Regions from separate parts of the Homo sapiens genome. Here regions 2, 3 and 4 are each linked to region 1. The links come from fine-mapping of genetic effects on plasma protein levels. A gene starts in region 1. Each other region holds a variant in brackets. All regions are shown on one strand. Distances are between the middles of the regions.

Region 1 (8,107 bases):
AAGCATTTTCTTTAATGTCAGAAGTAACAAGAATCCCACTATAACATCTACTATTCAGCATAATGCTGGACAGCCTAGCTAATTCAATAATGTAAGACAACAATAAATAACATTTGTTAAGTAGTAGGAAGGGAGCGACACAGCATCCATTTGCTGTGTCCAAAATGATTGTCTATATTTAAACTTCGAGAGATTCTACAGATAAACTGGATCCTAGATTTCAAATGGAAATGCTAAGGACCAAAATAGCCAAGACAAAGAAAAAAAGAGAACAGGAGAGGAGGACCTGATGTACCAGATAGCAAGACTTAGATAAAAAGCCTTGTAATGCGGTATTTGCTCAGAGGTGCATTGTCTTAAAACAGAACCTCATATATAGGACAGACATGACATAGAGTGAGGACTAAATGGTTCTGAGACTGAAACTAGACTAAAATGGTTCTGAGACAATAGAGGGAAAATAAGCATAATTAGACCCCAACTTTCTATCAAACACAGAAATAACATCTAGGTTATCTTGGTATGATTTGACTAGCATAGCAAAACTGCAGTATCATTCTGGTCCCTTATTTCCTGTTAGCTTCATTTCTGAACCCTTCCACTGTCGTTGTGTTAAGAATCTCATGTAGAGAAAACTGCATGTTTCCTGAAATGATACAGAAGCCTGAAGTTTAAAAGCTGATTGTGTTTGAAGATATTTACATCTAAAGATCTTTGCATCTAAAATTAACCACTGGCTTCCTTACACCCCAAAGTATATCGTGTAAAGTTACTAATTCAGCAGATAGATAAAAAGCTCATTTAGAATTCTGTTTGAAAAATAACCTATACGGTTTATCAAAGAACACATAAACGACTAATAAATACCCTGGATAAAAACTTAGACATATAAACTCATATGAACATAGCTATCCACTGCAGAAGATTTAACTTTTAATATTAATATATGCATTAGGAAATAAGCTCTTTTATATGGGAAATAACAGTGTTTTTAAAGTACTATCTTGGGTACTTCCTTTCTTTCTCTTTCTTTCTTGTAGCTTTTTTTTACTTTATAGAATGCTTGTTATGGTTTGGCTATATCCCCACCAGAATCTCATCTTGAATTGTAGCTCCCATAATTCCCACTTGTCATGGGAGGGACCCGGTGGGAGATAATTGAATCATGGGGGCGGTTTCCCCCATACTGACTTCATGGTAGTAAATAAGTCTCACGAGATCTGATCATTTTATAAGGGATTTCCCCTTTAACTTGGCTCTGGTTCTGTCTTGCCTGCTGCCATGTAAGACATCCCTTCCTCTTCCGCTATGATGGTGAGGTCTCCCCAGCCATGTGGAACTGCAGTGCAGTGGCGCAATCTGGGCTCACTGAAATCTCCGCCTCCTGGGTTCAAGCGATTATCCTGCCTCAGTCTCCCAAGTAGCTAGGATTATAGGTGTGCGCCACCACATACAGCTAATTTTTGTATTTTATTTTTTAGTGGAGATGGGGTTTCACCATGTTGGCCAGGATGGTCTCGATCATCTGACCTTGTGATCCGCCTGCCTGGGCCTCCCAAAGTGCTGGGATTACAGGTGTGAGCCACTGTGCCTGGTCTAAACCTTTCTTTCTTTCTTTCTTTCTTTCTTTCTTTCTTTCTTTCTTTCTTTCTCTTTTTTTTTTTTTTTTTTTTTTTTTTTTTTTTTTTTTTTTTTTTTGAGACGGAGTCTCTCTCTGTCGCCCAGGCTGGAGTGCAGTGGCGTGATCTCCACTCACTGCAAGCTCCACCTCCCGGGTTCACGCCATTCTCCTGCCTCAGCTTCCCGAGTAGCTGGGACTACAGGCACGCGCCACCACGCCCAGCTAATTTTTTTGTATATTTAATAGAGATGGGGTTTCCCCGTGTTAGCCGGGGTGGTCTCGATCTCCTGACCTCGTGATCCGCCTGCCTCAGCCTCCCAAAGTGCTGGGTTTACAGGGGTGAGCCACCGGGCCCGGCCCGCCCCCCTCCCTTTTTTTTTTTTTTTTTTTTTTTTTGAGACGGAGTTTTACTCTTGTCGCCCAGCCTGGAGTGCAATGGCGTGATCTCGTCTCACCGCAGCCTCTGCCTCCCGGGTTCAAGCGATTCTCCTGCCGCAGCCACCAGAGTAGCTGGGATTACAGGCACCAACCACCACGCCCGGCAAATTTTTTTCTTTTTTTTTTTCTTTCTTTTTTTTTTTTTGAGACGGAGTCTTGCTCTGTCGCCCAGGCTGGAGTGCAGTGGCGCAATCTCGGCTCACTGCAGCATCCGCCTCCCGGGTTCAAGCGATTCTCCCTGCCTCAGCCTCCCCAGTAGCTGGGATTACAGACGCCCACCACCGCGCCCAGCTAATTTTTGTATTTTTAGTAGAGACGTGGTTTCGCCATGTTGGCCAGGACCTCCTAACCTCAGGTGATCCGCCAGCCTCGGCCTCCCAAAATGTTGGGATTACAGGCTGAGCCACCTCGCCCGGCCAAACTTTTTTTTCTTTATAAATTACCCAGTCTCAGGTATGTCTTAATCAGCAGCGTGAAAACTAACTAATACAATGCTGATTTATTTCATCTGATTAATTCAATCCCAGAGGCAATTTTAACATAATCATTGAAAAAATTACAAACTTTTATAATAAAACAATTTAACAATATATTATTCCGTATACTGCTGTAAAAGCACAGTAAAAAATAGTCTCAAAAATTCTAGTCTCTGTGCCAGAAAGATGACAACAATCCAATTTCAACTCTCTGACAACACAGGCTAATCAATATCCAATGCCTATACTAAACATCTTAATAAAGACTTCAGCCGAAATATTTTTAGTTCAAAAAAGAGAACTTTTGGAATAATTTTGTTAGATAGAAAACTTACAAATGAGGAATTAAGTATTGACCATTCTACAGTTCAATACAAAATGTTAGCCAACGTAAGCTCTTACTCTTAAATACGACACATCAAGAATTCAAACATATTTGGGCATTCCAGACACAGTTTTTTACATGCTTAGTAATTGCGCAATAATCTGAGTTAGAGATATAAAAACAAAGATTACTTGTGAATTTGCTATAGCTCTTCTTTGAGTTTAAGATGCAGATCTTAACTTGCCCAGTAATAAACTTATACAAAATGTAATGGCCTAGAGCATGTTTACACTCCTATTATATAGACCCTGGTGTTCTGAAATGTAAAAATTGGATTCAGACAGCAATCATGTGAGATACTATTGTTCACAGGGGAACTTCTTGCATATACTGACATTAAAACAGCTTTTTATTACCCCTAACATTTGATGGTAAAGAATGTTAATTTCCCTCATTTCACAGTGTCCCTGGGCATTTCAAGTTCAATTCTGGAAAAGTTGCCAGGTTGGAGTTAAATTATAGGACAATAGAGAAATAGAAGAATTGTTGTTGACTGAGTAAGATATTGATTTCAATCAAGCACTGGATGTTTAACTTTGAATTAGCAAGCTGAAAGCTCTATTTTTTTTTTTTTTATCAAATATCAACTAAATGTCATTTTAAGTGACTGTTTCACATTAAAGCCAAAGCAAGAGGAATAACTGAAATATCCTTTGGGAGCTGTGAGTTGAAATTCCTGGCCTGGGGTAAATCCCTTAAACCATCTCTGAAGCCAAAAGATGATAGGTTGCAATTCTTATCAAAACATGGAGATGCTTCAACAAAATGTGCCTTAAAATAATATAAAATATTACCAGTAAAAGTCTTAAACTTTAAAGCAAAGGAAAGAAATTGAACAGCCATGAGATAATATTCTCTACTCCATCAATCCAAGTTATTGAAGAATCACTTGGGAAAATTCTGGAAGTAGTAACAAACCCTGATTAAGACAGGATTTTTCCTCTAGCATTGATTATATTTTCTATGTTAAAATCCACTTGAAGAGATCTTCTTAAATCTCCTGTACCTATATTTCCTTAAAAATGACTATTTGAGTTTCACATATTCGCATATATGGAGAGGTTCTGGGTAAGACAAGGTCAGAGTGAGCACCATCATGAAAATAGCTCACAAGACAGTTAGTCACAAACAGGATATGAGAATAATAAAAACTCTGAAGTAAAGAGTAAAGCATATCTCATTTATTACCTATGTGGAGTTCAGTAATATGACTTACCTGTGTTATGTCTCTCGGGAGTCTGCAGTGTCTTGTATCCCTGGGTATGTGACTGTGCCTTGGGTTTATATGACGAGTAAGTGATAATCACGAGCCAGTGAGAGGACAGGCAACTTCCTTCTACCTAACGCTCTTCCTTCTTTTCTTAGATAAAACATGCATGCCAGGCAGTTCAAGCCTGCGAAGACTGCTGGTTATACAGGATATCTGGGTATAAATAAACCAACACATTTGTATACAAGGTAAAGTCAAAGTTATAGCTGCATATGTATGCCCACTGTTACATGTTCACTTATTTTCAGTTTTACACCATAGGCTCCTGGAGAATAAGAAAACCTGAATGTAATGAAATCATCTTTGCAGATGTGCACATGACTTGCTTCTCTATTTTAGAAACAGTCTCTCCTGTACCTGCTGTATGTTCCTTCGAGGCAGTGTCTAACAATGTGGTGTATTTAACTTGTTTGTTTTTGGTTTCTCCCAGTGGAATGTAAGCTCTGTAAAGGCAGGCACTTCACTGTCTTTTTCACTATTGTCTCCTCAGTTCTAAGAGGAGTGCCAGGCATGTCATGACCACTAATATACATCTGATGATAGAATAACCCTAATTTATAGTTCACGTTTTTGCAAGGACTGTAAATTTGCATTGTTGCTGGTTTATTTCATTTACTCTCATTTCTCAGAAAAGCCAAAGTGTTTAAAGTAAACCTGGTGTAGAAGTTTCCAATTCATCTTGTTTGTGATCCTTTTACAATTTAGTAACAAATGCCTGACATTTTAGAAATTTATTGTTTCACTTCTTAGTGCAGGAATTATTTTTATCTATAATATTAGGACAGCTCAGTGAAAAGATCCAATAAAATGCCTGCCTGGGCCTTACTGAGCCTGAGGATTATCCATGAAACATTTCAATGACCAGCTGGCTTTCAACTTCCAGAAAATTACTCCCACAGGCAACAATAGCAACATATCAATCATTTAATATTTCTTATTTCTAAAGTGCTTTTAATTTTGAAAAATATGTTTACATCCACTTAGTATAAACGTCAGAAATGAAAATAAATGTAAATACTAGTATGTAAAAAGAGAAGACGCAAGTGTAGCCCTTTACCCACCAAAAAAGGATACATGTGTGTCAAAATCAAGTGCAAATGGGATGGGAGTGGGAGCTATACAAAATTAACACAATGCATTTATTATCTTTGACAGCTTTAACTTATATTTTCAAAAAAATCTTTTTATCCTCACCTCAATGATTTTTAATCCCTATTTTTATAAATGAGGAAACTGAGACATAGGGAAATTAGGTAAATTGCCTGCGAATTTTTGTTGGGACAAGCTAGGATTAAAATCTAGGCCTTCTGATGACACATTTAATATTTTTCCTTACATAATGCTGCCTATATATAATACGAGACTGCTTCAGTTAAAAAAAAATCAAGTATACAAAAAATAACACTTTTCTCATTTTGTATTACAATTTTATCTTTTACGACCAGTTGTTTTGGCTGGAGGAAAGCAGAGTAACACATCAAGGATTGGGGAAGGAGCAGCCACTTGATCCTTGGTCACCGATCAACAGAGGCTGCTCTAGAGGCATCCATTGTCCTTGTGTGCATGGCCTCCACGCCAGGAGCTCTCTGCAGCTCCTGTAGCATTCTCATTTTGCTACCTTCTTGCCCCAGTGTGGTGGTTTCATCACAACGCTGCCTGAGATTCCACCTGCCCAGTACCCAACAGAGCCACTTCTTCTCTGTGGTCTTTCTACCTCCCTGGAGGCACAAGAGGGTCCCAGGAGAGGGTCCCAGATCTCCTCTACTCGGGAAGCACAGCTTTCCCATCCTCTTGTCTCTTCTCCCAGCCCAGGTGGGGGTGCTCTAACTCTCCTAGTCTTCTACCAGCTGTGGGCCTTTGGGCAGGTAACTTAATCTCTCTGTGCCTGAGCTCCTTCACCTTTAGATGGAGATTGATTCTACAATAAATATTTATTTGTTCCTAATCTTTGCCAGGTATTGTTCTGAACGCTAGAGATATAGCAGTAAATAAGGCTGGGCGCGGTGGCTCACTCCTGTAATCCCAGCACTTTGGGAGGCCGAGGCAGGTGGATCACAAGGTCAGGAGATGGAGACCATCCTGGTCAACATGGTGAAACTCCATCTCTACTAAAAATACAAAAATCAGCCAGGTGTGGTGGCCCACGCCTGTAATCCCAGCTACGCGGGAGTGTGAGGCAGGAGAATCGCTTGAACCCGGGAGGCAGAGATTGCAGTGAGCCGAGAGCGTGCCACTACACTCCAGCCTGGCGACAGAGCGAGACTCCATCTCAAAAATAAATAAGTAAATAAATAGAGATATAGCACTAAATAAAATCAGACAAAAACAAATCTTCATGGAGCATTCTAACAATATTAGTAATAACTCTCTCATAAGCTTTTACAGAATTAAATGAGTACACAGATATGTGCTTCAAAGTGTGCCTAATGCATAGTTAGGGATCCATGAGTGAGAGCAATTGTTAATATTATTAGCAGTTCACCTGAAGGGAAAATCGTTTCCCTTCAAGAATCTATGCTCAAGAATTCTTTCCTTTTCTGTGGTTGGGTTTGGGCACTAACAGCAGAAAGAGAAGTAGCTGTCAGGCAACTTTCATTTTTCACCCTGCTTCATCCTCTTCTGAGGAAATGAGCACGGAGCCAAGTGTCTACTGGAATAGGGAGGAGGAAAAGGGCAAGGGCAAAGTGAAAACCCCTCATGGATTGTTACCTCTCAGTTCCCTGCTCTCCAGGGCAGTGACTTCTTCATGCCACACACCCTTCAGGAGCATGTTGTGGATCCAGACTGGACTGCATGAGAAATACCCGTGAAAAAACGTGTCAAGTTGTATGATCATGTCCACACAGTCATTTAAAGGCCTATTATAATTTAATAAATATGTCTTCATTTTCTCTGGGGCTTCCTAGTTGGAAAACTTTTAATCCTGTGGTATTGAATTAGCAAATTCCTAACTGCTGTTAAAAATCCAACGTTAAATCATAGTCCATTTCTGTCCTTGTTTTCTTTATTTGCCCACCTGTGTAGTAATGTGACTATACAAGATAGTGATTAAAGAGTTTCATCCTGGAATCATGACCTCTTAGAGGAATCTCCACTCCATTATTTGCAAGCTCTGGGACTTTAGGCAGCTGCCTTAGTTTCCTTATCTGTAAAATGGTGATGATAAAAATCATTCTACTCAGAGTTGAAAGGATTCAATGAGTTTGTGCATTTAAGTCACTTAGTGCCTTGCTTAGCAAGCAGTTGCTCGATAAGTAATGGAAAAACACATACAATTTTTAAAACGTGGCCCACATATTTGTTCCTCTTTATTTATTTTTGTAAAAGAGAAGTGTTCAAACAAACCTATTTCTCCTTTTCTAGCTTGTCTGTTGATGGGGAAGGGGAGAAGTATCCAGGAGAAGCCCACAAAACTTCCTTTGCTCAGATTCTAGAGTGGTCTGGTTTACTTTTGTATATTTTATTTAATAAAACAGTTTTCCTTTTTATAGTTAGTTATTTGAAAAACTAAAAACATGTAAAAGTGACGTATTTAAACCTGGGGTTGAAAATACAGGAAATAAAGAATATGTTTTTCTGCTTCTAACCTACTTGAGTAATTGAAACATGCCTGCAAATATTTTAGTGTCTGTGTTTTCCCAGATTTCAATAATGATAATGCTATTATCTGAAGTCTGCCTCTTCAGATACTGTGAAGAATGATATGGTAATTATATCCAAGATTATGAGCAAATCTTTCACTACCTAGCCTTTTGGCTAAAAGAGGATTCCTATATGTAGGCAAATAATAGTAATAGAAATAGCTAAAATTCATTAAGTATTTCCTGTGGGCCAAGCATTGAACCAAGCACTTGTCTTGTATTACCTCATTGAATGCCTACAAAACAACATCACAAATAGTGCATGCACCCTTGAGT
Region 2 (8,107 bases), 17 kb after region 1:
GTCTTGGTGGCGCATGCCTGTAGTCCCAGCTACTTGGAAGGCTGAGGCAGGAGAATCGCTTGAACCCAGGAAGCAGAGATTACAGTGAGCCGGGATCATGCCATTGCACTCCAGCCTGGGCATCACAGCAAGACTTCGTCTGAAAAACAAAAAAAGATTCAAGGATAACAGAGAGAAAGATAATTGACTGCTAAGGATGGAGGAAAGTCTTCCCAATAGAAAAATGCCTTTGAGGTAAGTTAGTATTGATCAGGGCCAGAGTTCTAGCTAGCATCTAGCTCCAGGTAGATGAGTCTGAAAAGCAAGCACAGGTCAGACCATAGCAAGTCTCTCATGGCATGATGGAAAGAAAGAAGCCTGTGGAAACTACATGTAAACTTTTCTCCTTGAGAACTCTGTCAGTTGCTAATAGCATGCTCTACCCACTATTTCTTATATATGTATAGAGAACTAAGCCTTAACTGTATGTTTAAACACAGTCATAGGAACAGTGCATTTATGATCAATAAGCCCAACTAAGTCTCAACTCTCTTTTAGAGTTTAGATATAGTCAACTTGATAAACTTTTATTGAGCAATAGCTATGTAATACTTAAGCCAAAACTTGAAGATGAGAAAGTGTGGGAAAGAAGAAAAGCATTCAGGCAGAGGGAAGGTTCAAGTAAAGGCACAGAAGTAAGAGTGAAGAAGACATTCCAATCTCTATGTAAAGCAGGGATCCTGGTGGGAGGCAGGTGTTGTCTGAGCCTAACCCACCAGACTGAACCTCATGGAGCTTGTACCCCAGGCAGTGAGGAATCACTGAAGGATTTTAAGTAAGGAAGCAACAGGAGTACATTTCATTTGTAAACAATCGCTCTGACCAATATGAATCAGAGAAAGAAAAGAACTATGAAAAGAAAGCAGTGAAGTTGCACTAAGACATCATAAAATGTTAAATGGAATTATCGAGCCTCTTCCATAACATGCCTACAGTAACAACACAAGCAGTGTTTGCTTTTTAAGTTTTCATTAGGCAGTTGTTTCAGGGAGGACCCTGTTCAACAGCAACCCCAAATTACACAGACTTCAGAAAAAAATAAAAAAAGAATTGTATTGGATATAGAAATGGCTGCCTGATCTCATGCTGTTATCACCAGCTTCATCCCTCGGTTCTGCTTATATAAAGTTAGTGCCATTCCCAGCTTCCTCCTCATGGCTTCCAGCTACTCCGAGATTACCCCTTGTGGTTGAAAATATCTGAGCAGGTGCAAGCCCAAAGGTCTTTTGCCACCAAATCCAGCAGAATAGAAGGCTTCTGTTTCCCAGAGGCCTGGCAAATGTCATCTAGAATCTCACTGCCTGACTGCAAGGCCCTGTGCCTAGGGCCTGCAATACTTTCAGGGGCCTATGAAAAATGTTTTAATTTCTTTCAAAATCAAATGAAAAAAACACTTCTAGTTCAAGGAAAATGTCTTATTAACAATATCAATGTATCTATATCAGTGCCATTTAAAATAAGATTTTTAATTTTTTTGTATGGAGGAAGGTGTCCACGTAGGCAAAAGTACCCAGGGCCCACAAAAGCCGTACCTTGCTCCTGGGTGACTGGGTTATGTGCTCATCTCTGAACCAATCACTGTGTCCTGAGTGGTGGTGGAGGGTATGGTGATCAGGGAAAACCAATAAAGGCTCACTCCAGATCCAAAGATCAATCCTACGCCAACCACTTGGCTGGGAATGGGGGTTGTAGTTTTAGGATGCTGTTTCCAGAAAGCAGAGGATGATGCTGGACAGCAAATAATAGATGCCCAACATGCAGGGCCTTCTGATAACACAGGGATTTGTACACTTTTTTTTATGCTCTTGGCATTGCGTGAGACACTTCCTACTACAGGTGTTGCTGTATTTTATAGTTCTCTTAGTAAATCCAAATTTTTAATGTCCAGCCTTTGAAGAAAGAAATGTTCTAGGCATAGTTTTAGTGATTATCTGATTTCAAGCCCATTAGATGAGAAAGAAATGTCTTTTTAGTTTATCATACATTTTTATTTTAAGAGACAGATTCTTGCTATGTTGCCCAGGCTGGACTTGAACTCCTGGGCTCAAGAGATCCTCCCACTTCAGCATCCCAAGTAGCTGCGATTCTAGGTGCATGCCACCACGCCCAGTTTATCATAAAATTAATTCTAATTAAAGAAAATAGTGGGTCTTGTTATTTTCTCAACAATCTAGCATCCCCTTTCCCCATTCCACTGGGTTCTAATGGGGCTTTCCATCACATTGCTCTACCTTCCCAAACACAGAGATGGATACGTGACTTATGCCAAGTCAATCTGAATTGTAACTTTTCTATCAACGATGATTCATTTAATGAAAACAAATTGTTCTACAACTTGATGGGGTATCTCAGCAGATCCCAAGCTAGGATTCAGAGTCTGGCTGCAGGCATTGGGTCAATGAGTCAGCCCTTCATCCAAGATATTGACTTGAATTATTTCATAAGCATGAGAGGAGAACATTTTTCTATCAGTCTATCAGTGAGTGAAAGAAAAGGGATAGGAAGACAGAGAAAACTCAGGTTTGTGTTCTCCTTGCCTGGCCCCAAAACTAGATTTGTAGGGTTGCAGGAAGCAGAGAATGGGGGTCTTTTCATAAACAATTTTGTGAGTACTGCTTTGGATCTCTGTGTCAAAGTGTAGCACTGAGTTGGGATGAGGAGAGGATTCTATTTCTTGTACCATTTGCCATCCCAAGATTTCTCAGTTGCAGGAGCATCAGGACATGCACCCTTGTTGAAGGCAGCAACATTTTCCCATTCTCACATTGTTTAGCTAAGGCAGTGATCATGAGGAGACACTCCCTCAAGGTGCTTGTAGGTAACAGGCAGCAGCAACAAGGAAGGCAAGTCAGGAGAACCAGACCAGACTTGTTCTTACACACATGTGAGACATACTCTGGGGATGTTACAAAAAACTGAAGATTTTGGAAGAGGGATGCTAATAACTGTCAGTCAAGAAGGTGAGGCACAGAGCCTGTTAAATTTGGAAAAATTGATGTTAACATGACCTCATTTGTACCTTCATGCTGTTGTAAACAAGAGATGTGTGTGTCTGTTGGAGGGGGTGGGGTGTGGGGAGCTGGTGGGGTGGGATATTCTTTCAGTCTAGAACTATTTCTTGAGTGCCTTCTATCTGCCTGGCACTATTCCAGAAATCAGTGGTGCGCAAAATAAGCAAGTTTCCTTCCCTCAAGGGTTACACACCTAAGAAGTCTATGTGAAGTAGAAACAACCTGGAGCTTGGCTTTCCCTGATGTTCTAGAGTTCTGTGGGTGTTACACTCCATGTCATTTATGGATTATCAGGCTCTATGGAACTAGCTTCTAAATCAGAGTCAGTATCAAGGTAATCTCACTAACCCTCTAGCCAACTCAGTAAAATTGTAATGCCTGTCCCAAGCTAAACTCAAAGCATAAAGCTTTACTCCAAATTCAAGTAGTCATCCATTAGCTCTATTAATTCTATGCCTAATATTTGGAGGCCAGTGGTCTTGAAATGAAACGTATGGTTATTTAGCTTGGTTAGAGAGATAGAGACTGAATTCTTAGCCTCAAACCATTGGTTTTCTTTCTTTCACCTTTTTTCAAGATGTGTCTTTAAAAAATGGGATCACTGTGGCAATAGATCCAAAAATTATTTGATGAAGTGGAATATTGATCATTCAGGTGCCT[A/C]AGTACTGACACTATTTTTTAATTCTTACACTGTTTCACACTGAATGGAAATATAATCCAAGGTAACCTTCTGCTCATTGGGACTGCCTTAAGCCTTATGCGCAGTAGGGCTATTTATTAGTGATCCCAAGCAGAGAATTAAAAAACAAACAGCAAAGCATCCATTTGAACAAATTGAACTCATATGGTAAACTCAGATACACATTCTTTAAAGGAACTGTGAAGTAATCAAGAGTTTCTTCCAAAAGACATTTATAAGGAATCAAATGGGAAAAAGCCAAACGTGTATATATTCTAAAGCTACTCATCCTTTGGGATAGTGAAAAAGATCTGAAAATGGATAGTGGTGATGGCTATACAGCAGTTTGAATGTACACAGTGTAATGTCCCTAAACTATACATTTAGAAATGGTTAAAAAAGTAAATTTTTTGTTATGTATATTTTATCACAATAAAAATATTTGAAAAAAAAACCTTTCCATCCTGAGTTAAACCAGAACTTAAAAATATTCTCCAAATTGAGCTTGAACTTTCATCATATGTTATTTGGTTTGAGCCTTGAGTGACTACCACACCAGTGACTCTTTAGCGCCTGCCAAAATCTTTCTGAATGTATTTGGCTTAGTTTTAAATAATAACATTTATTGGATACAGAAAATATAACTCATGTCCTTTCCGATTCATTGAAATAAACAAATAAGTAAACATACTGTCCAAACTGAGCTCGGTTTTGAATTAAGTCATTATCATAAGCGCAAAGCAAAATGCCTGTTGTCTTTCTAGCATGTGTGTTCGATACTTGTATTTGTATTTGCCAGTTATTCCCCCAGAGATGTCATATGAATGCTTTTAATTTGAAAAATGTTGGACTGCTTTATCTGATGTCCAAACCTTACAAAAAATGTTTGCATGGAAAACTAATTAATGGTTCAATGTCCATCTTCAAGCCAAAGTATGTGCACAGCTCAAATGACGTTCAATTTTAGGCCATTGGGATCAATGCTTAATACAGAGTTGATGGTCCTAAGATCCTGGAGATTATTGTCAAGTATCTCAGCCAGGATTCTTAAGCCAAGTGGCTGTTTGCTTTTAACATAAATTTGACCTAGGTTTTCATCCATCACAGAATCAGGATATTGTTTTCCACGTGGTTTTGTGTGTGTGTTTGTGTGGTGAGACAGGCTATTATGCAGTGAGTCTATGCATAATTACTGAATTTTTTTGTTTCATTTTGTTGAATTTTTATTTAAATAATTTTCTGTTATGAACAATTTAATTCTAGTTGGTTATTGGTATTTTATTAATTTAAATATGTGTTTAAATCTGATCTGCATAAAATGATCACTACTCAACTAAATTCCAAAGGCTTATAACAAAAGAAATGTTTCAATTCCTGGTCAGTGATACTTAAGCGTTTTGGTTGTTTTCAAAGAAAAATTTCATCATCTTCTCCAGTATAGTCATATATATAACTAGTGGCACCCTATGTAGAATGCCACCATTTATGTTGATGATTCTAGTTAATATTTCAATCAATTATTACTGAATGATCTCCAATCAAATATATCAGTTCTTAAGAACATCATTGACTTTTTCTTTTGAGATAGATACAGTGGCCCTATTTTGTGATTTGATTAAGTTACTGTCTTTGATTACATCTTAGCAATACTCTTAGCTAACATAACTTACTGGCAGTAGGCATTGTTCTAAGTACTTCATATTAATTAATATATTTAATTTTCATAACTGCACTATGGGGTTTTGTATTATTGTTACTACTACTGTTATTCTTATAAGTATTTTACCACTACTATTATTTTTTACTATTTTTAATTATTACTACTACTATTATTATTCCTATTTGATAAGTAAGAAAACTGAGGATCAGAACTTGCTCACAATTACACAACTAATAATGAAAATAATATGGACTTGAACCCAAGCAGTCTGTCTTTAAAATCATTGCTCTTAATCCTTACACTATAATCCAGGCACATCCTCATAAATTTCCTACCTGTATCCAGCTTCCTCTCTTGGCATTTGCCTCTTAACACCCTATGTTCATACATTACAAAACTCATAGTTGTTTTTGCTTTATTTTGTTTTGAGCCTTTACAATACTTACTTTAGTTAGGGAAAATTATATGGTAGAGGGCAGAAAGGTGTTTCTGATTCACTTGCTTTGCTTCTGGGTCATGGTCTCCTTGTAGATTGTGACTTGCAGCCAATAAGGATTGCTGAAGTGACTTTGTCAAATGGAAATCAGTGTTTGCAGAAATGCGATAGAATAAAAGATATCACAAATATATTTTTAAATGTTCTGTATGGAACTACTTAGATTCCATATAAAGATAATCTAGGTAAGACCTGCAAGAAAAGCTGAGATCCAGCATCATTCATACTTTGTCTATGATGGAACTAAGTGTTGGTTGCAAGGCTGAGAGTAGAGGCTACCTCTCCTGACTCCCTATTTAATGCTCCTTCTTCTCGCCTCAAGAACTAATAGTCTAATAATGGGTGCATGGAAGTGAAAAGACAGTTATACAACTGGGAATGTGGTAGAGGTGAGCATAGAGTGGAAAATGAATATATGGAGACTAGAAAATATTTCCCAAAGGAGGAGATACAAACTTTAGAATTGACTAGGTAAAGGGGAGAAGGGAATGCTCCATGAGGTGAGAGCAGCATATTTTAAAATCCCAGGTCTGTGAGCATAGAGGAACTGTTCAGAGACTGCAAACAACCCAGGATGTCTGGGTAAGCTGGAAAATGAGAAAGGGGAAACTGGATATAGATAGGAGAAAAAAAATATGCCTACTATGCCATATTGAGGAATTAAAATTTTAGCCAGTCTTTTATGGATGACACTGGATGATTTTATACAAAAAAAAAGTGTCATTATTAGATTTGCATTTTAGGAAGAATGCTCTGTAAGAGAATGTGTTGGACTCTGGGATGGGAAGAGAGCTCTGTAAAGACTAATGACGGGGTGCAAAGAGACAAGAGGAAACTGTTGCAATGCAATGGAGAGGAAAGAGCAAATCCCAGAGACAGGAAGAAAACAGTGACATTATGAAAACACGTGCCTTAGGTATCTGTTGCATGACGCCAAGACAAAAAAAAAAAAAAAAAGCCAAGTGAAGAGCCCACTAAGAGGTTCATCATGAGGTAATTGTGAGAAATCCAAGTGGAAATATCTAATTGATATATGGTTCTGTGCATCTGGTGCTCAGAAAAAAATTCAAAGGCAAAATACAAATGTGGTCATTATCAATCATTTGTTTGAACAACATCTAGTAAGCATTTACAAAGTGCCGGTATTGTGATAGGCTCTGGGAATTCAGAGGAGAATCAAGTCAGATCCTATTCTTGTGTCTGTTTGTAGCTTACAGAGGAGGAGAGGAACATATGAAGAGTTAAGGGAAGGAAAGAATTTTTGGTTTGACCACACATTGTGTCCAGAGCACAATGCGATAGTTGTCTCTGGGAAAGGTAATCCAATGCAGTGCTCTGCAGTTATAGTCTCGGTGCCTTTGAAAAAATAATTTGCATAAATAATGAATTGCTATCTCACAATTCAATTAAGTTTCCTTTGGCATTTGACCCTGATTATTATTATTATTTCTGATGTCTCAGAAATAATAATAGTAGCTAACATTTATTGACTACACTTACTACATTTATTGACTACCTTGTCTACTACCTGTTAGATAATTTTCTCAGTATTTCAAGTGTATTTTCTCATTGACTCCTCCCAACAACCCCATAAAATTGGTACTATTATAATCTCTATTTTACAAATAAAGAATCCAAGCACAGAAAGAATAGGTGACTTGTCCAAGTACACTAGTTAGAAAATAGCCAACCTAAAATTCAGGCCTGCAGATTCACTTCAGGTCTGAATCTTATAGAAAAAATAAGAGTAACAGATTATAGGAAAGATAATAAAATGCTACTTTTTCATCATCGGTTGTGCATTCATGTTAAATTGTCTTATTTTGCTCTGCTATAAAATTCATATGAAGTTAATTTTTTTCAGAAAAACCTTTAATTTGGAATTACTTAATGGATTGAGAATCATTCGTATTTTTTGTGCCAGGGAGTAAAATATCTTCTTGATTTCCTTGATTGTGTTTGCTTTTCTTCATTCTCAACCTACCAAAATATTTAATGACCAACTAAGAATGTGACCACCCTCACTGTTACCATGTTAAACAAGCTTAGTCACAGACCTCTTTTTCCGGCTCCTTTATCTTTTATCTAAAAAAAAAAAAAAAAATCAAACTAGACTCATTTCCTTTTAGAACCTTTTTTTCTCTTATCTCTTTAACTCTAATTCTTCCATCAATTATAGCTTTTATTCCAGAGAAAAAATATAGACACCCTTAGCAAGAAAC
Region 3 (8,107 bases), 46 kb after region 1:
TGACTCGTGTGAAGGAGAAAAACTGGCCGTGAGGGACAGAAGTTGGAAAGCTAGCTGCTTGTCTAGCCACCTTATCAGCATAAGCGTTGCCTAGAGCAATGGGATCTGACGCCTTTTGATGGCCTTTGTAGTGAATGACTCTAGCTTTCTTTGGAAGTAAAGCGGCCATGAGCAGAGTTTTTATTAAAGAGGCATTAATGATGGAGGACCCTTGCGTGGTGAGGGAATCTCTTTCAGCCTATATAATAGCTTGGTGGTGCAGAATATAAAAGGCATATTTAGAGTCAGTATAAATATTGACGTGTAGTCCTTTTGCAAGAGTGAGGGCTTGAGTTAAGGCAACTAATTCGGCTTGCTGAGAGGTAGTGGAGTGGGGCAGAGTGGTAGCCTCAATGATAGATGTGGAAGATGCTGTAGCATAGCCTGCCTTCGCTGGTGAGTGGCGATCAGGTCTGGTGGAACTGCCATCAATAAACTAAATGTGATCAGGGTGAGGAACAGGAAAGAAGGAAATATGGGGAAATGGGGTGAATGTCAGGTGGATCAGAGAGATACAGTCATAAGGGTCAAGTGTGGTATCCAGAATAATGTGGGAGGCCGGATTGAAGTCCGTGCTGGGAAAAATGGTAATTGTGGGAGACTCAACAAAGAGTGAGTATAGCTGAAGGAGACGGGGAGCAGAAAGTATATGTGTCAGGTATGAGGAAGAAAATAGATTTTGGAAGTTATGAGAAATGTAGAGAGTGAGTTGAGCATAGTTTGTGATTTTTAGGGCCTCTAAAAGTATGAAAGCAGCGGCAGCTGCTGCATGCAGACATGAGGGCTAGGCTAAAACAGTAAGGTCAAGTTGTTTGGACAGAAGGGCTACAGGGTGCGGTCCCAGCTCTTGTGTAAGAATTCTGACCGCACTAACCATGCCTAGAAGGAAAGGAGTTGTTGTTTTGTAAGGGATTGAGGTTTGGGAGATTAGTTGGACACAATCAGCAGGGACAGCAGGTGTGTTTTTATGAGAATTATGCCAAGATAGGTAACAGATGAGGATGAAATTTGGGCTTGACTGAAGTAAAGGGGGCTGTCTGTGAAGCCTTGTGGCAGTACAGCCCAGGTAATTTGCTGAGCCTGATGGGTGACAGGGTCGGTCTAAGTGAAAGCCAAGGGAGGCTGGGATGAAGGGTGCAAAGGAATAGTAAAGAAAGCATGTTTGAGATCTAGAACAGAATAATGGGTTGTAGAAGGAGGTATTGAGGATAGGAGAGTATATGGGTTTGGCACCACGGGGTGGATAGGCAAAACAATTTGGTTGATAAGGCGCAGATCCTGAACTAACCTGTAAGTCTTGTCTGGTTTTAGGACAGGTAAAATGGGGGAATGGTAAGGAGAGTTTATAGGTTTTAGAAGCCCATGCTGTAGCAGGCGAGTGATAACAGGCTTTAATCCTTTTAAAGCATGTTGTGGGATGGGATATTGGCGTTGAGCGGGGTAAGGGTGATTAGGTTTTAATGGGATGGTAATGGGCATGTGATTGGTTGCCAGGGAAGGAGTAGAGATGTCTCATACTTGTGGGTTAAGTGGGGAGATAAAAGGGGAGGATGTGAAGGAGGCTTTGAACTGGGAGAAAAGGTGGCAATGAGGTGTGGCTGTAGCCCAGGAATAGTCAGGGTAGCAGATAATTTAGTTAAAGTGTCTCAGCCTAATAAGGGAACTGGGCAGGTGGGGATAACTAAAAGGAGTGCTTAAAAGAGTATTGTGTAAGTTGGCACCAGAGTTGGGGAGTTTTAAGAGGTTTAGAAGCCTGGCCGTCAATACCCACAACAGTTATGGAGGCAAGGGAAACAGGCCCTTGAAAAGAAGGTAATGTGGAGTGGGTAGCCTCTATATTGATTAAGAAGGGGACGGACTTACCTTCCACTATGAAAGTTACCTAAAGCTTGGCATCCATGATGGTCTAGGGGTCTTCCGAGGTGATCAGGCAGTGTCAGTCTTCAGCCACTAAGCCGAGAAGATCTGGGAAGGAGTCAGTCAGAGAGCCTTGGGCCAGAGTTCCAGGGGCTCTGGGAGTGGCTGCCAGGTGAGTTGAACAGTCCGATCTTCAGTGGGGTCCCGCACAGATGGGACATGGCTTAGGAGGAATCCTGGGCTGCAGGCATTCCTTGACCCGGTGGCCAGATTTCCAGCACTTGTAGCAAGCTCCTGTGGGAGGAGGTTCTGGAGGAACGCCTGGCTGCTACAGTTCCGGCATTTGGAAGTTCTTGTGTGCTGGAGATGTGGATGGGGTTTGTCTCATAGCGGAGGCAAGGAATTGCAACTTTTTTCTATTATTGTACACCTTGAAGGCGAGGTTAATTAAGTCCTGTTGTGGGGTTTGAGGGCTGGAATTTAATTTTTGGAGTTTTATTTAATGTTGGGAGCAGATTGGGTAATAAAATGTATATTGAGAATAAGACGGCTTTTTGACCTTTTAGGGTCTAGGGCTGTACAGCATGTCAGTGTTGCTGCCAAACGAGCCATGAACTGGGCTGGGTTTTTATATTTGATTAAAAAGAGCCTAAATGCTCTCCGATTTGGGATAAGGAAAAAGGAGCATTAACCTTGACTATGCCTTTAGCTGCAGCCACCTTTTTAAGAGGAAATTGCTGGGCAGGTGAGGGAGGGCTACTCATGGAATGAAACTGTAAGCCGGACCAGGTGTGAGGAGGGGAGGTGATAAAAGGATTATAGGGTGGAGGAGCAGAGGCTGAGGAAGAATTGGGACCTAGCTTGGCCTGGCGAGGAGGGGAGAGGTCAGATGGGTCTGTAGAAAAGGAAGATTAGAAAGACTCAGTGACGCTTGGGGTTGTGACTGAGGGGACAGGCGAGAGGGAAAGAAGGAAGATTAGGGATGAGTTGCACTGGGAACAGAGACTAGGGAGGGACTGATGTGTAAAAGAATGCCTGGATGTCAGGCACCTTAGACCGTTTGCCCATTTTACGACAAGAATTATTTAGATCTTGTAGGATGGAAAAATTGAAAGTGCTGCTTTCTGGCTATTTGGAACCACTGTGGAGTTTGTATTGGGGTCAAGCAGCATTGCAGAAGAAAATAAGGCATTTAGGTTTTAGGTCAGGTGTGAGTTGAAGAGGTTTTAGGTTTTTAAGAACACAGGCTAAGGGAGAAGAAGGGAGAATGGAGGGAGAATGGAGGGCAGAAGCTTACCCGTAGTGAAGGAGGCAAGCCCAGAGAAAAGAGAGAGTAGAGACATGGAGAGAAGGGCTTGGGGGTTCTTGCCCCCCAGAAAAGTGGTGAAGGGGTTGGGGTGTGGAAATAAGGGGTTGGTGCACAGAGATAAGAGGTCAGGACATGGAAATAAGGGATCGGGGCACAGAGATAAGAGGTTGGGGCATGGAAATAAGGGATCAGGGTGCAGAGATAAGAGGTTGGGGTGTGGAAATAAGGGATCGGGGTGCAGAGATAAGGGGTTGG[G/A]GCATGGAAATAAGGGATTGGGGCACAGAGATAAGGGATCAGGGCATGGAAATAAGGGATCGGGGCACAGAGATAAGGGGTCAGGGTGCGGAAATAAGGGATCAGTGGGTTCTTGTCCCCCAGAAAAGCAGAGAAGGGGTAGAGACAGGGAGAGAAGGGGTCAGGGTTCTTGTCCCTCCCCCAGAAAAGCAGGACTTGCCGCTAGCTAAGAGTGAAGGACCAAGGCAGGCATCCCTACGTGGTCAGACACCTCTGAAACATGGGTGAATAATCAGAGAGGCATCCCTGCAATGATTAAACACCAAGGGAAGGCTGCCTTCCCGAGTCCATGACTGGCGCCGAAGTTTTGGGTCCACGGATAAAACGTGTCTCCTTTGTCTCTACCAGAAAATAAAAGGAATTGAAATTAAGAGAAGGGAGAGATTGAAGGGTAGTGCCAAGATTGAAAGGAGAAAGTGGTTGAGGGATAGTGAGAGAGGTTGGAGAAGAGAGTAAAGAGAGGCTGCTTACCCGATTTAAAATTGTTGAGATGTTCCTTGGGCTGGTGGGTCTGAGTACCTGAGGTCCTAAGTGGATCTTTCTCACGGAGCAAAGAGCAGGAGGACAGGGGATTGATCTCCCAAGGGAGGACCCCCAATCCAAGTCACGGCACCAAATTTCATGCGTGTCTGTGTGAAGAGACAAAGCAGGCTTTGTGTGAGCAACAAGGCTGTTTATTTCACCTGGGTGCAGGTGGGCTGAGTCCAAAAAGAGAGTCAATGAAGGGAGATAAGGGTGGGGCCGTTTTATAGGATTTGGGTAAACGAAAATTACAGTCAAAGGGGATTTGTTCTCTGGCAGGCAAGAGTGGGGATCGCAAGGTGCTCAGTAGCAGAGTTTTTGAGCCAGGATGAGCCAGGAGAAGGAATTTCACAAGACAATGTCATCAGTTAAGGCAGGAACAGACCATTTTCACTTCTTTTGTGATTCTTCAGTTACTTCAGGCCATCTGGGCATATAGGTGCAAGTCACTGGGGATGCGATGGCTTGGCTTGGGCTCAGAGGCCTAACACTAACAGCTCTAGGATTTTCAGAATGATAAATGAACGTTGGTTTTGACATAAAGTCACAAGCTGCATTAGCCCCTAACAAGAGAGTCAGCCTGTCCTTTGAAGTTTGAAAGCCAGGCACTGACTTCTCTTTAGCTAGGAAAGTCCTAGATGGCATCTTCTTCCAATGTAACTGTTTTGTCCACATTGAAAATCTGTTGTTTAGCCACTTTCATTCTTTGTCTTAGCTAGGTCTTGTGGACAACTTACTGCAGCTTCTCCATCAGCACTTGCTGTTTTACTTTGTACTTTTATATTATGGAGACAACTTCTTTCCTTAAACCTCATGAACCAACTTTTGCTAGCTTCCAACTCTTCTTCTGCGGTATTCTCCTCTTTCAGCCTTCATAGAATTGAAGAGAGATAGGGTCTTGCTCTGCATGAGGCTTTGGCTTAAGGGAATGTTCTAGCTGCTTTGATCTTCTATCCAGACCACTCGAACTTTTTCTCTATCAGCAATAAGACTGCTTCACTTTCGTATCATTCACCTGTTTACTGGGGTAGCACTTTTAGTTTCTTTCAAGAACTTTTCCTTTGCATTCACAACTTGGCTGTTTGGCACAAGAGGCCTGGCTTTCAGCCTTTTGACATACCTACCTCACTAAGCTTATTTCTAGCCTTTAACTTGAAGTGAGGGTCACTGCTGGGTGTGGTGATTCATGCCTGTAATCCCGGCATTTTGGAAGGCTGAGGCAGGAGAATCATTTGAGACAAGAAGTTTGAGATCAGCCTGGGCAACAAAGTGAAACCCCATGTCTACAAAAAGTTTAAAAATTAGCCAAGGGTGATAGTGCAAGCCTGTAGTCCTGGCTACTTAGGAGCCTGAGGTAGGAGGATTGCTTGAACTCAGGATTTCGAGGTTACAGTGAGCCATGACTGTACCACTGCACTCCAGTCTGGGCAATAGAGCAAGACTCTGGCTCTATAAAAATAAATTTAAAAATAAAGTAAAAGGCATGTGACTCTTCCTTTCAGCTGAACACTTAGAGGCCATTGCTATTAATTGGTCTAACTTTAATACTGTTGTGTCTCAGAGAACAGGGAGGCCCAAGGAGAGCGAGAGAAGCAGGGAAAAGGCTGGTTGGTAGAGCAGTCAGAACACACACATTTATTGATTAAGTTCACTATCTTATAAGGGCACAGTTCATGGCACCCCTAAACAATTCCAGTAGTAACATTAGAGATCACTGATCACAGATCACCATAACAGATGTAATAATAATTTAGAAATATTGCAAGAATTACACAGAGGCATGGAGTGAGCACATGCTGTTGGAAAACTAGTGCCAATAGACTTGCTTGACACAGGGTTGCCACAAACCTTCAGTTTGTAAAAAACGCAATATCTATGAAGATCAATAAAGCAAAGATCACTAAAATGAGATATGTGTGTAGTCATTTTAAATGTACTTACCATTTTTCCTCCTCTTATCTTTTTGGCTATGTTAATTTAAAAAAAACAAAATACATATAGATCTGAAGTTCATTTGAAATCTCCTTGAAATAACTGCTTTAGTTTTTTATTAATTTGTTTCTTCATGGATATCTCTTCTTCTCTGGATAGTAAGTAGCTTTCCTGTAGTAACCATTAAAGTATAAAAAAAATGAGTAGTAGGGACCAGGACCTGGGTCCAAATCTTAGATTGTAGATCTCACAATTTGTATTTTTATTTTGTTTCCTTTTCCCTTTTTGACACAGAGCCACCTGCTGGCAAGAGGAGGTTAACTTTGAATATATTGTAGCATGCAATTGGGTTCAGGTGCACAGGAAAAGTAGCATTGATGAGGCTGCACCTCAAAATGGCTTATAGATTTTGACTGTTAATGATACTAAAAATGTTAAAATGTACCATGTAGTTGGAGAAGGATTTTTTTTAAGCTGAGCTTTCTCAAAGATCAAATTAAAATGTTGATGAGAAAACCTCATTAAAAGCAAAGAAGTTGAAGAGACAGTGGAGAGGAGGGAGAATCCATTATCTAAGGTTCTTTAAAGGCAAGAATAGGAGAATTCCTGGGCAAAGGTGGAAAACAGGTGAAGACAAGAGAAGGGGATTCTCCACCGATGCACCAGACAAGAATGGGAAGAGATAAGCGGAAGATGGTGAGGTAGTGGGAAGTTGATTTTGATTTTATCTGGGCTAAAAGGGAAAATGGGATAAGAGTCTAAGGCATAAAGTAGAGCACAGAAAATGTAAAACAGTCCAGCAAGTAAGAAAGCAACTTGCTTAGGGAAACACACTAGGATTTTAGGGCCATGTTGAAAGTCCAGTTGAAGTTGACGATAGCAAATTTCCAGTATTATTGAATGGATATGCCCTACTTTGTGATTTTTCTCCAAAATTGGTCTGTTATCCAGGTTAAGATATACAAAAATGAAAGAGTGGAGGTCACACTGCATTAGTTTTTGCTAAACAGGAGAGATAAGACAGTTTATGGCACTGACAAAATTGTTCTTAGAATTATGGGCCATGAACTATAAACTGAATAGGAAGATAATTAAACATAGGGAGAGGATATAGAAATGGGGACTGGACCTTCACTGAAGGATCATCAAGGTAGGAGTAGTTAAAGAATCAATCCAGAAAAATGAGACATTATGGTAAGAGTGCTCAATGTCTAAGCCATTTATTTGGAATATTGATAATTTTGTTCTTTTTCATTAAAAGATCCAGAATTTCATTAAAAGATCCAGACCAGGGGAAGAGATAACTGAGTGTAGAAAAGGCCGTAAAAGATGAGTTTGGTAAGAAAATGAGAAATCAGAGCATCGAAAAGATACTATGGGTATTGAAACCACCCACAATGATGGCAGGAATTAGAGCAGGGGAAAGACTCTGAATCAAGTGCAAAGTTTTTGATGATCAAAGGAAAGTAATCAAATGATAGCAATGACAAAGAAAATTAGCAGGTTATAGAGGTAAAATGGTATAAGCCTTAAGAAATAGGATTCCTTTTCACAAGAGATTGGGTGGGTCATGTTCTGAAAGATGAAATGAGGAGCAGAAAGTTTTCTAATCTTGCATCTAGATAGCAAAGTCTCTGACGTTTGAAAGAATCACATCCACCACTCCACTGGGCTGCTGGAGAGCACCAGCCCTGCAGTAAGGCAAGTGAAGGGGCTCCTTGGAGACCGGAGTTTGTGCTGATGATGAAGGAGCAGTTCCAGGGCTCTACAGCTGGGGAGGTGGGAAGTGGAGATAGAATGGAGGACAAATAATTTAGCTTCAATAATATACTTAGTTTATTAGTCTTAGTCGAATAGTCTTCCTCTTTCCTAAAGGATCTATTCAAATTGAAGAACTAAGTTGAGGTTACTTGTATTAAATACTCAGTTACTGATGCCAGGTGTGACAGCTCACGCCTGTAATCCCAGCACTTTGGGAGGCCAAGGTGGGCAGGTCACTTGAGGTCAGGAGTTCAAGATCAGCCCGGTCAAAATGGCACCCCATCTCTACTAAAATTACAAAAATAGGGCGAGGTGCGGTGGCTCATGCCTGTAATCCCAGCACTCTGGGAGGCCGAGGCAGGCGGATCATGAGGTCAGGAGATCGAGACCATC
Region 4 (8,107 bases), 44 kb before region 1:
TGAGCTGTGTTTTTAAAAGACCTTTAGTCCGTTCTACTTTTCTTGAAGACGGAGGACCGTAAGGGATATAAAGGTTTCACTGAAACCTACTAAAAGCCTGAAAAACTGCTTGGCTGATTTGACTAATAAAGGCTGGTCCGTCATCAGACTGTATAGAGGTGGGAAGGCTAAACTGAGGAATTATGTTTGACAGAAGGAAAGAAATGACTGCGGTGGCCTTCTCAGACCCTGTAGGAAAGGCCTTTACTTATTCAGTGAAAGTGTCTATTTGGACTAAGAGGTATTTTAGTTTCCTTACTCAGGCATGTTGAGTAAAACTAATTTGCCAGTCCTGGGTGGGGCAAATCCTCGAGCTTGATGTGTAGGGAAGGGAGGGGGCCTGAATAATCCCTGAGGAGTAGTAGAATAGCAGATGGAACACTGAGAAGTTATTTCCTTGAGGATAGATTTCCACGATGGAAAGGAAATGAGAGGTTCTGAGAGGCGGGCTAGTGGCTTGTACTATAGCATAGCCTGCCTTTGCTGGTATGCGGCGATTAGGCCTGGTGGAACTGCCATCAATAAATCAAGCGTGATCAGGGTGAGGAACAGGAAAGAAGGAAATATGGGGAAATGGGGTGAATATCAGGTGGATCAGAGAGATACAGTCATGGGTGTCAGGTGTGGTATCAGGAATAATGTGGGAGGCCGGATTGAAGTCCGGGCCAGAAACAATGGTAATTGTGGGACTTAAAGAGTAAGTACAGCTGAAGGAGCCGGGGAGCAGAAAGTATATGCGTCAGGTATGAGGAAGAAAATAGATTTTGGAAGTTATGAGAAATGTAGAGAGTGAGTTGAGCATAGTTTGTGATTTTGAGGGCCTCTAAAAGTATTAAAGCAGCGGCAGCCGCTGCACGCAGACATGAGGGCTAGGCTAAAACAGTAAGGTCAAGTTGTTTGGACAGAAAGGCTACAGGGTGCAGTCCTGGCTCTTGTGTAAGAATTCTGACCGCACTAACCATGCCTAGGAAGGAAAGGAGTTGTTGTTTTGTAAGGGATTGAGGTTTGAGAGATTAATCGGACATGATCAGCAGGGAAAGCACGTGTGTTTTTATGAGAATTATGCCGAGATAGGTAACAGATGAGGATGAAATTTGGGCTTGACTGAAGTAATGGGGGCTGTCTGTGAAGCCTTGCGGCAGTACAGCCTAGGTAATTTGCTGAGTCAGGGCCAAAGTGAAAGCAAAGAGAGACTGGGATGAAGGGTGCAAAGGAATAGTAAAGAAAGCACGTTTGAGATCTAGAACAGAATAATGGGTAGTAGAGGGAGGTATTGAGGATAGGAGAATATATGGGTTTGGCACCACGGGGTGGATAGGCAAAACAATTTGGTTGATAAGGTGCAGATTCTGAACTAACTTGTAAGCCTTGTCTGGTTTTAGGACAGGTAAAATGGGGGAATGGTAAGGAGAGTTTATAGGCTTTAAAAGGTCATGCTGTAGCAGGCAAGTGATAACAGGCTTTAATCCTTTTAAAGCATGCTTTGGGATGGGATCTTGACATTGAGCGGGGTAAGGGTGATTAGGTTTTAATGAGATGGGAAGGGGTGCATGATCGGTCGCCAAGGAGGGAGTAGAGGTATCTTATACTTGTGGGTTAAGGTGGGGGGATATAAGAGGAGGACACAAAGGAGGCTTTGGATTGGGAAGAAGGGCAGCAATGAGATGTAGCTGTAGTCCAGGAATAGTCAGGGAAGCAGATAATTTAAAGTGTCTCAGCCTAATAAGGGAACTGGGCAGGTGGGGATAACTAAAAAGGAGTGCTTAAAAGAGTATTGTCTAAGTTGGCACCAGAGTTGGGGAGTTTTAAGAGGTTTAGAAGCCTGGCCGTCAATACCCACAACAGTTATGGAGGCAAGGGAAACAGGCCCTTGAAAAGAAGGTAATGTGGAGTGGGTAGCCTCCATATTGATTAAGAAGGGGACGGACTTACCTTCCACTGTGAGAGTTACCCGAAGCTCGGGGTCCGTGATGGTCTACGGGGCTTCCGAGGCGATCGGGCAGCATCAGTCTTCAGCCGCTAAGCCGAGGAGTCAGTCAGAGAGCCTTGGGCCAGAGTTCCAGGGGCTCTGGGAGTGGCTGCCAGGTGAGTTGAACAGTCCAATTTCCAGTGGGGTCCCGCACAGATGGGACATGTCTTAGGAGGAATCCTGGGCTGCAGGCATTCCTTGGCCTAGTGGTCAGATTTCTGGCACTTGTAGCAAGCTCCTGGGGGAGGAGGTTCTGGAGGAACGCCTGTCCGCTGCAGTTCAGGCATTTGGAAGTTCTTGTGTGCTGGAGATGTGGCTGGGGTTTGTCTCACAGTGGAGGCCAGGAATTGCAACTTTTTTCTATTATTGTACACCTTGAAGGCGAGGTTAATTAAATCCTGTTGTGGGGTTTGAGGGCCAGAATTTAATTTTTGGAGTTTTATTTAATGTCGGGAGCAGATTGGGTAATACAATGTATATTGAGAATAAGATAGCCTTTTGACCTTTTAGGGTCTAGGGCTGTAAAGCGTCTCAGGGTTGCTGCCGAACGAGCCATGAACTGGGCTGGGTTTTTATATTTGATGAAAAAGCCTAAACACTATCTGATTTGGGATAAAGAAAAAGGAGCATTAACCTTGACTATGCCTTTAGCTCCAGCCACCTTTTTAAGAATAAATTGCTGGGCAGGTGGGGGAGGGCTAGTCACAGAACGAAACTGTAAGCCAGACCAGGTGTGAGGAGGGGAGGCGATAAAAAGATTATAGGGTGGAGGAGTGGAGGCTGAGGAAGAATTGGGACCTAGCTTGGCCTGGCTAGGAGGGGAGAGGTCAGATGGGTCTGTAGAAAAGGAAGATTAGAAAGACTCAGCGACGCTTGGCGTTGGGACTGAGGGGACAGGCAGGAGATTTGGGACGAGTTGCATTGGGCACAGAGACTAGGAATGGACTGATGTGTAAAAGAATGCCTGGATGTCAGGCACCTCAGACCATTTGCCCATTTTACGACAGGAATTATTTAGATCTTGTAGGACGGAAAAATTGAAAGTGCCGTTTTCCGGCTATTTGGAACTACTGTCGAGTTTGTATTGGGGTCAAGCGACATTGCAGAAGAAAATAAGACACTTAGATTTTAGGTCAGGTGAGAGTTGAAGAGGTTTTAAGTTCTTAAGAATACAGGCTAAGGGAGAAGAAGGAGGAATGGAAGGTGGAAGCTTGCCCATAGTGAAGGAGGCAAGCCCAGAGAAAAGAGAGCGTAGAGACACGGAGGGAAGGGGTTTGGGGGTTCTTGCCCCCTAGAAAAGCAGGACTTGCCGCTAAGGGTGAAGGAGAAGGGGTTGAGGGGTACTTGCCCCTGCCCCAGGAAAGCGGAACTTGCCGCTAAGCGTGAAGGAGAAGGGGTTGAGGGGTACTTGCCCCTGCCCCAGGAAAGCGGGACTTGCCGCTAAGGGTGAAGGAGAAGGGGTTGAGGGGTACTTGCCCCTGCCCCAGGAAAGCAGAGAAGGGGTAGAGACAAGGAGAGAAGGGGTTGGGGTACTTGCCCCTTCCCCAGAAAAGCGGGACTTGCCGCTAAGGGTGAAGGACCAAGGCAGGCGTCCCTGCGTGGTCTGACACCCTTGATACATGGGTGTATAATCAGAGAGGCGTCCCTGCATTGATTAAACACCAAGGGAAGGCTGCCTTCCCAGTCCGTGACCGGCGCCGGAGTTTTGGGTCCACGGATAAAACGTGTCTCTTTTGTCTCTACCAGAAAATGAAAGGAATTGAAATTAAGAGAAGGGAGAGATTGAAGTGTAGCGCCAAGATTGAAAGGAGAAAGAGGTTGAGGGATAGTGAGGGAAGTTGGAGAAGAGAGTAAAAAGAGGCCGCTTACCGGATTTGAAATTGGTGTGATGTTTCTTGGGCTGGGCGGTCTGAGGACCTGAGGTCATAGGTGGATCTTTCTCACGGAGCAAAGAGCAGGAGGACAGGGGATTGATCTCCCAAGGGAGGTCCCCCAATCCGAGTCACGGCACCAAATTTCATACGCGTCCGTGTGAAGAGACCACCAAACAGGCTTTGTGTGAGCAACGTGGCTGTTTATTTCACCTGGGTGCAGGTGGGCTGAGTCCGAAAAGAGAGTCAGCCGAGTTTTATGAGTTCTATATAATTTTGAATAATAGTCTTTTGTCAGATACATGTTTTACAAGTATTTTCTCCAAGTCTGTGGCTTGTCTTCTCCTTCTCTTGATCTCTGGGGTATCTACATTTTTCTCATCACA[A/G]CAACTTTATTCATGTCAGTAAATTCATCTTTACAAGTTTCTCTGGCTGCATATCTAGAGCCTTTTGAGCCGTGTCAGATTCCCACAGTCAGCTCTTTTCTCGATAACTCTTTATATTCAGTTTGAATTTCATTCCAGGATTATCAGTTTTTGTTCCTTTGCTGCACTTTCATCTTTGTTGGGGAGTTCCCTCTTTTGATTCATTTTTGTAAAATGTCAAAGGGATTTATCACTGGGCCACAAGCAGGCAATAGCAATACAACTACACACTTTGCTATCTATGCAGGAATAACAGATGTGCAGTGACCTCTGGCAGTCTTTGATAGAAGTGACTGGTCATTGGTCATGATGTACATAGGTTATTTACACAGCGATATGTGAACTGGAGAGCTACTAGCAAAGTTTGTGTTTTATGCAATTACAGGTAATTGTGGTAGCTGAAGTCCAAAACATTTTGGGGGAGGGGAAGAATGGTGTTGCTAAACCATTATGACTGCAATTCGTGCATGTTAGAACCTGTGCAAAGCAAGGTCTGCCTGTATTACATACTATTTTTCTGTAATTGTAAATGATGAGAAGCTATTCTGAAAGAAAAAGATACTGAAGAAAGATTTGTTTTTATTTTCCTTTTTAAAAATCAGAATATGGCTAAAGTGAAAATCTTAGTGGAGCTGGGGAGGGAGCATGTGGATTATCTGGCAGGCTGATGTAGCTGTCTTATCTGATGAGAGAGATGCCCCCGAGAAAAACAAACTTGAAGGCAACATGGATCAGCTAGAGTTTGGTTTGGGGCCTTCGTTTTATCCAGTTAGCGACGGCAGGAATGGCTTGGACTTTCTTCCGTAAAGTCACCAGCCTTGGATGGTTGTCTAACAGGTCAGGCTTAAAGACCAAAAGTGTGGTACTGCAAATCTCCCAGTAGAAGTCTGCCCAAGTTACCTAGTTTAAAGGAAACAAACTTTTCATTTGAACATAGAAAGTGTAGCTGTATCAGCATTCCAAAATTGAAATTAGTTTCTTAATCTAAAAGATTCAAAACAATCTTGTTATTACAAAAGCAGAATGTTTATATGATAGAAGTTCAGAAAATTACTGATATCACACTCCAGCAATCAGGTTACTACTATTAAACATTTTCGTGTATAAGATATTTTTCTATGCTGATAGATGTTGTTTTACTAACATGAGATCTTAATGGTACATACTCTTGTAACCTTGTCCAGTCTCCACCTCTCTGTGACAATACATTTTCCTTATCCAATAACCAATACGTATTTTTCCATCTGTTCTAAAATTGCCCTTTACAGGACAAAGCAGGATCTATTCCAGGTCTATGCATTTGATCTGCTTATGTCCATTAACTCTTCAAAGCAGTACCCTTTTTTTCACATCACCAAATTATTGAAGATTTCACACTAGTCCTACAGAATGTTCTATCTTCAGGACCTTTGTATTTCATCTTACCTTGTTCCTTTGTACTACGTAGTATAAAGGAAGGTGCAGGTTACTCTTAGAGGGTATATAATTTCAAGTGAAATATTTGTGGCTAAAATACATTATATTGTATCACATAAAAAGAATATATGGATGTCTGACCATTAGGGGTATGCCAAGATTGGCCACTGGATTAGTGATGACAGCCTGGTCCTACCATTGTACAGTTGTATGTTTTTATCTTTGTGTTAGAAACTAATCTGTATGCTGTTACTTTGGCTCCATATGATTATCAAAGAGTGAAGTTTAAATGTGGCCCACTCTTTTTTCTTTTTGTATAGAATTTAATAAAGCTGATTGCTAGTGCCTCAGGAACTTATTAAACATCTGTCAGCCAAGAGAAGCTACTGGCTGGAAGACTCAGAATTCAGAATAAATCCAGAATTTATTCAAATATTTATCAAGCACCTACTGTGTGCCATGCCCAGGTTTAGGTGCTGGAGAGCAAGGTAGGATGCAAGCCCTTCTCTCATGTAGCTTTTATTTTAGAAGGGAAAAGCAAATATGCAAAATGATAGGGGTTAGGAAAAAAAAAAAGTGAAGTCATGTGATGGACTATGACATGGTCAGAGAGGACTTTTTAAGAGGTGACACGTAAGCCCAGGCTTAAATATAAAAAAAGATTAAGACCTGCAGTGAGCAATCTGGGGATTAAGCGTTCCAGGTATAGGGAAATGCGTAAAGGCCCTTAAGTGGGAATGTGAGTTAGGTCTGAGGGACACACACACCAGTGTGGAGCACTGTGAAGAAGGGAGAGAGTGCCCAGAGATGAGATCAGAACATCATTTACAAAGGAATCTTAATAGAAAATGAAAAATAAATTCTTAGAAATTTTTCAATAGGGCAGGGAGAGGAGCATTTTAGTAAAGGCTATGAGGGGAGTCAGAAGAAATGAAGGGGTATGTGAAGAGGTTGAAAGTTGAGAATAAAGATGTGGCAAATGTAGTTCTGTATCACCCAGAAGGGCTGAACAGGGCAGACAGCAGAGTGTCAGCATGCTACAAAAAAGCAGTCTTATCTCCCAAAATGCAGTCTCCCTGAAGGTAGAGACCTCCACCTACCACAACTTGTAATCAGGTTTAGATTTGAATTTTTTGGCAAGACTACTAGGTGGTAGTGTGCCTAGTATCTGGTTGTCTAACTTTTTTGTGATTATTGATGGTCCATGCCTACGCCAATTAATTTTTCTGGGGTTGGAAAGTGGTGATAGTTTATTTCAGTCTTTCTTTCTTATCTATTAACTGGAATACTTTCATGAAGACAAACTTTTTCCAACTGATCGAGATATAAAATGCTTCATAATTTATCCTGATATAAAATACATATGAGTTTATACTGTTAGCTGTAGTTCAAGTTCAGGAATGGATATTTACTTGACCTTACTCACCTTACATCTCTATCTCCGTTCTCCCACATTGAAGATCCTGGTTCTCAGTGACATCAACACAATTTATTTTTGTACCCACAATATAATTATAATAATACCAGAAAAAAAATACCAATAGTTTGTAGTACCACCAACAATATGATTACTGAAAATAGTATATGATTTTTTGTTGTTCTAAGCTAAGAGATATCTGTCTTAGATGTATAATCAGATTAGTGTGTTTTACAAATGATACTTCTTGAAATAGTTCTTCTCTAGTAGAGTACATATGTATTCTGTGTGTTCTCTATGCACCTCTTTTGCATAGTTAGGTTCATTTACTTTGCTTTGATTTTTAGGATAGCTTTTTAAGTTTTCGCTGCCAATATATAATTATATAAAATATGGTTCCAAAGTCAAATCTATTTTTTAAAAAGGTTTATTTAAAGAAGTTTAACCTTTGTTCTTGCTGTAAATTCTATCCCCTCCCTATAGGTAACTTTTTTTCAGTAAGTTTTTATACTTCTATTGGTTTGTCCTTTTATTTGCTTGAATTTTTTAAGATATAAAACATACTCACAGAGTTACCAATAAGCCATTCTCTCCCCCCTAAATATGTGTCCAAGTCTTGCATAAGATGAGGCGCATTATACGTGAGCAGCTCATTGAACATCTGCTCCTAGGAGAAGGAGAAAATATCACTTTAAGAATAATGAGAAGAAAAGTAACATGATCTGAGGAGGAAGTAGATTTCTCCATCTTTATTCTCCCACATGAATTCAAGAAGAAAGAGAAGTAGCTAGATTTTTTATTCAAATTTATGACATGGAGATTTAGGTCTGATTCTCTATAGATGTGAGTCATCTCTTTATTGCTCATGGATTAAAAAAATAGTTTTGTGTCACCAGTTCTTAGTTTCTTTGTGTATAATGACTAAATATTTTACCCACAAAATCTTATTTTTTCTTAAATTTACTAAAGT

Alleles and levels. Positions count from the first base shown, and alleles are read on the strand shown. Strength reflects both the effect of a copy and how common the allele is.
With allele A in place of C in region 2, the plasma level of the protein whose gene starts at base 4,178 in region 1 is higher (weak association).
For the plasma level of the protein whose gene starts at base 4,178 in region 1, G is the high allele of the variant in region 3 and A is the other (weak association).
For the plasma level of the protein whose gene starts at base 4,178 in region 1, allele G in region 4 goes with a lower level than allele A (weak association).

What was found. PIP is the chance, under the fine-mapping model, that this variant and not a neighbour inherited with it causes the effect. The UK Biobank Pharma Proteomics Project read protein levels with antibody pairs (Olink). The fine-mapping took linkage between variants from a reference panel, not from the people measured, so its PIPs are less certain.
Region 2: its variant is fine-mapped to the plasma level of the HPGDS protein (UK Biobank, PIP above 0.99).
Region 3: its variant is fine-mapped to the plasma level of the HPGDS protein (UK Biobank, PIP above 0.99).
Region 4: its variant is fine-mapped to the plasma level of the HPGDS protein (UK Biobank, PIP above 0.99).

The regions. Positions count from the first base shown.
Region 1 is chr4:94,338,659-94,346,765 of GRCh38, forward strand. HPGDS (hematopoietic prostaglandin D synthase) reads right to left here and starts at 4,178. Exons shown (of 6, transcript NM_014485.3): 1 at 4,137-4,178.
Region 2 is chr4:94,355,423-94,363,529 of GRCh38, forward strand. No RefSeq gene overlaps it. Among named protein-coding and RNA genes, the nearest start is that of HPGDS, 17 kb to the left of the region's middle. The variant A/C (reference allele first, on the strand shown) is at 3,711.
Region 3 is chr4:94,384,750-94,392,856 of GRCh38, forward strand. No RefSeq gene overlaps it. Among named protein-coding and RNA genes, the nearest start is that of HPGDS, 46 kb to the left of the region's middle. RefSeq lists an enhancer at 1-351. The variant G/A (reference allele first, on the strand shown) is at 3,461.
Region 4 is chr4:94,294,441-94,302,547 of GRCh38, forward strand. HPGDS (hematopoietic prostaglandin D synthase) reads right to left here. Exons shown (of 6, transcript NM_014485.3): 5 at 7,706-7,804; 6 at 4,095-5,204. The coding sequence ends at 5,040. Among named protein-coding and RNA genes, the nearest start is that of HPGDS, 44 kb to the right of the region's middle. The variant A/G (reference allele first, on the strand shown) is at 4,266.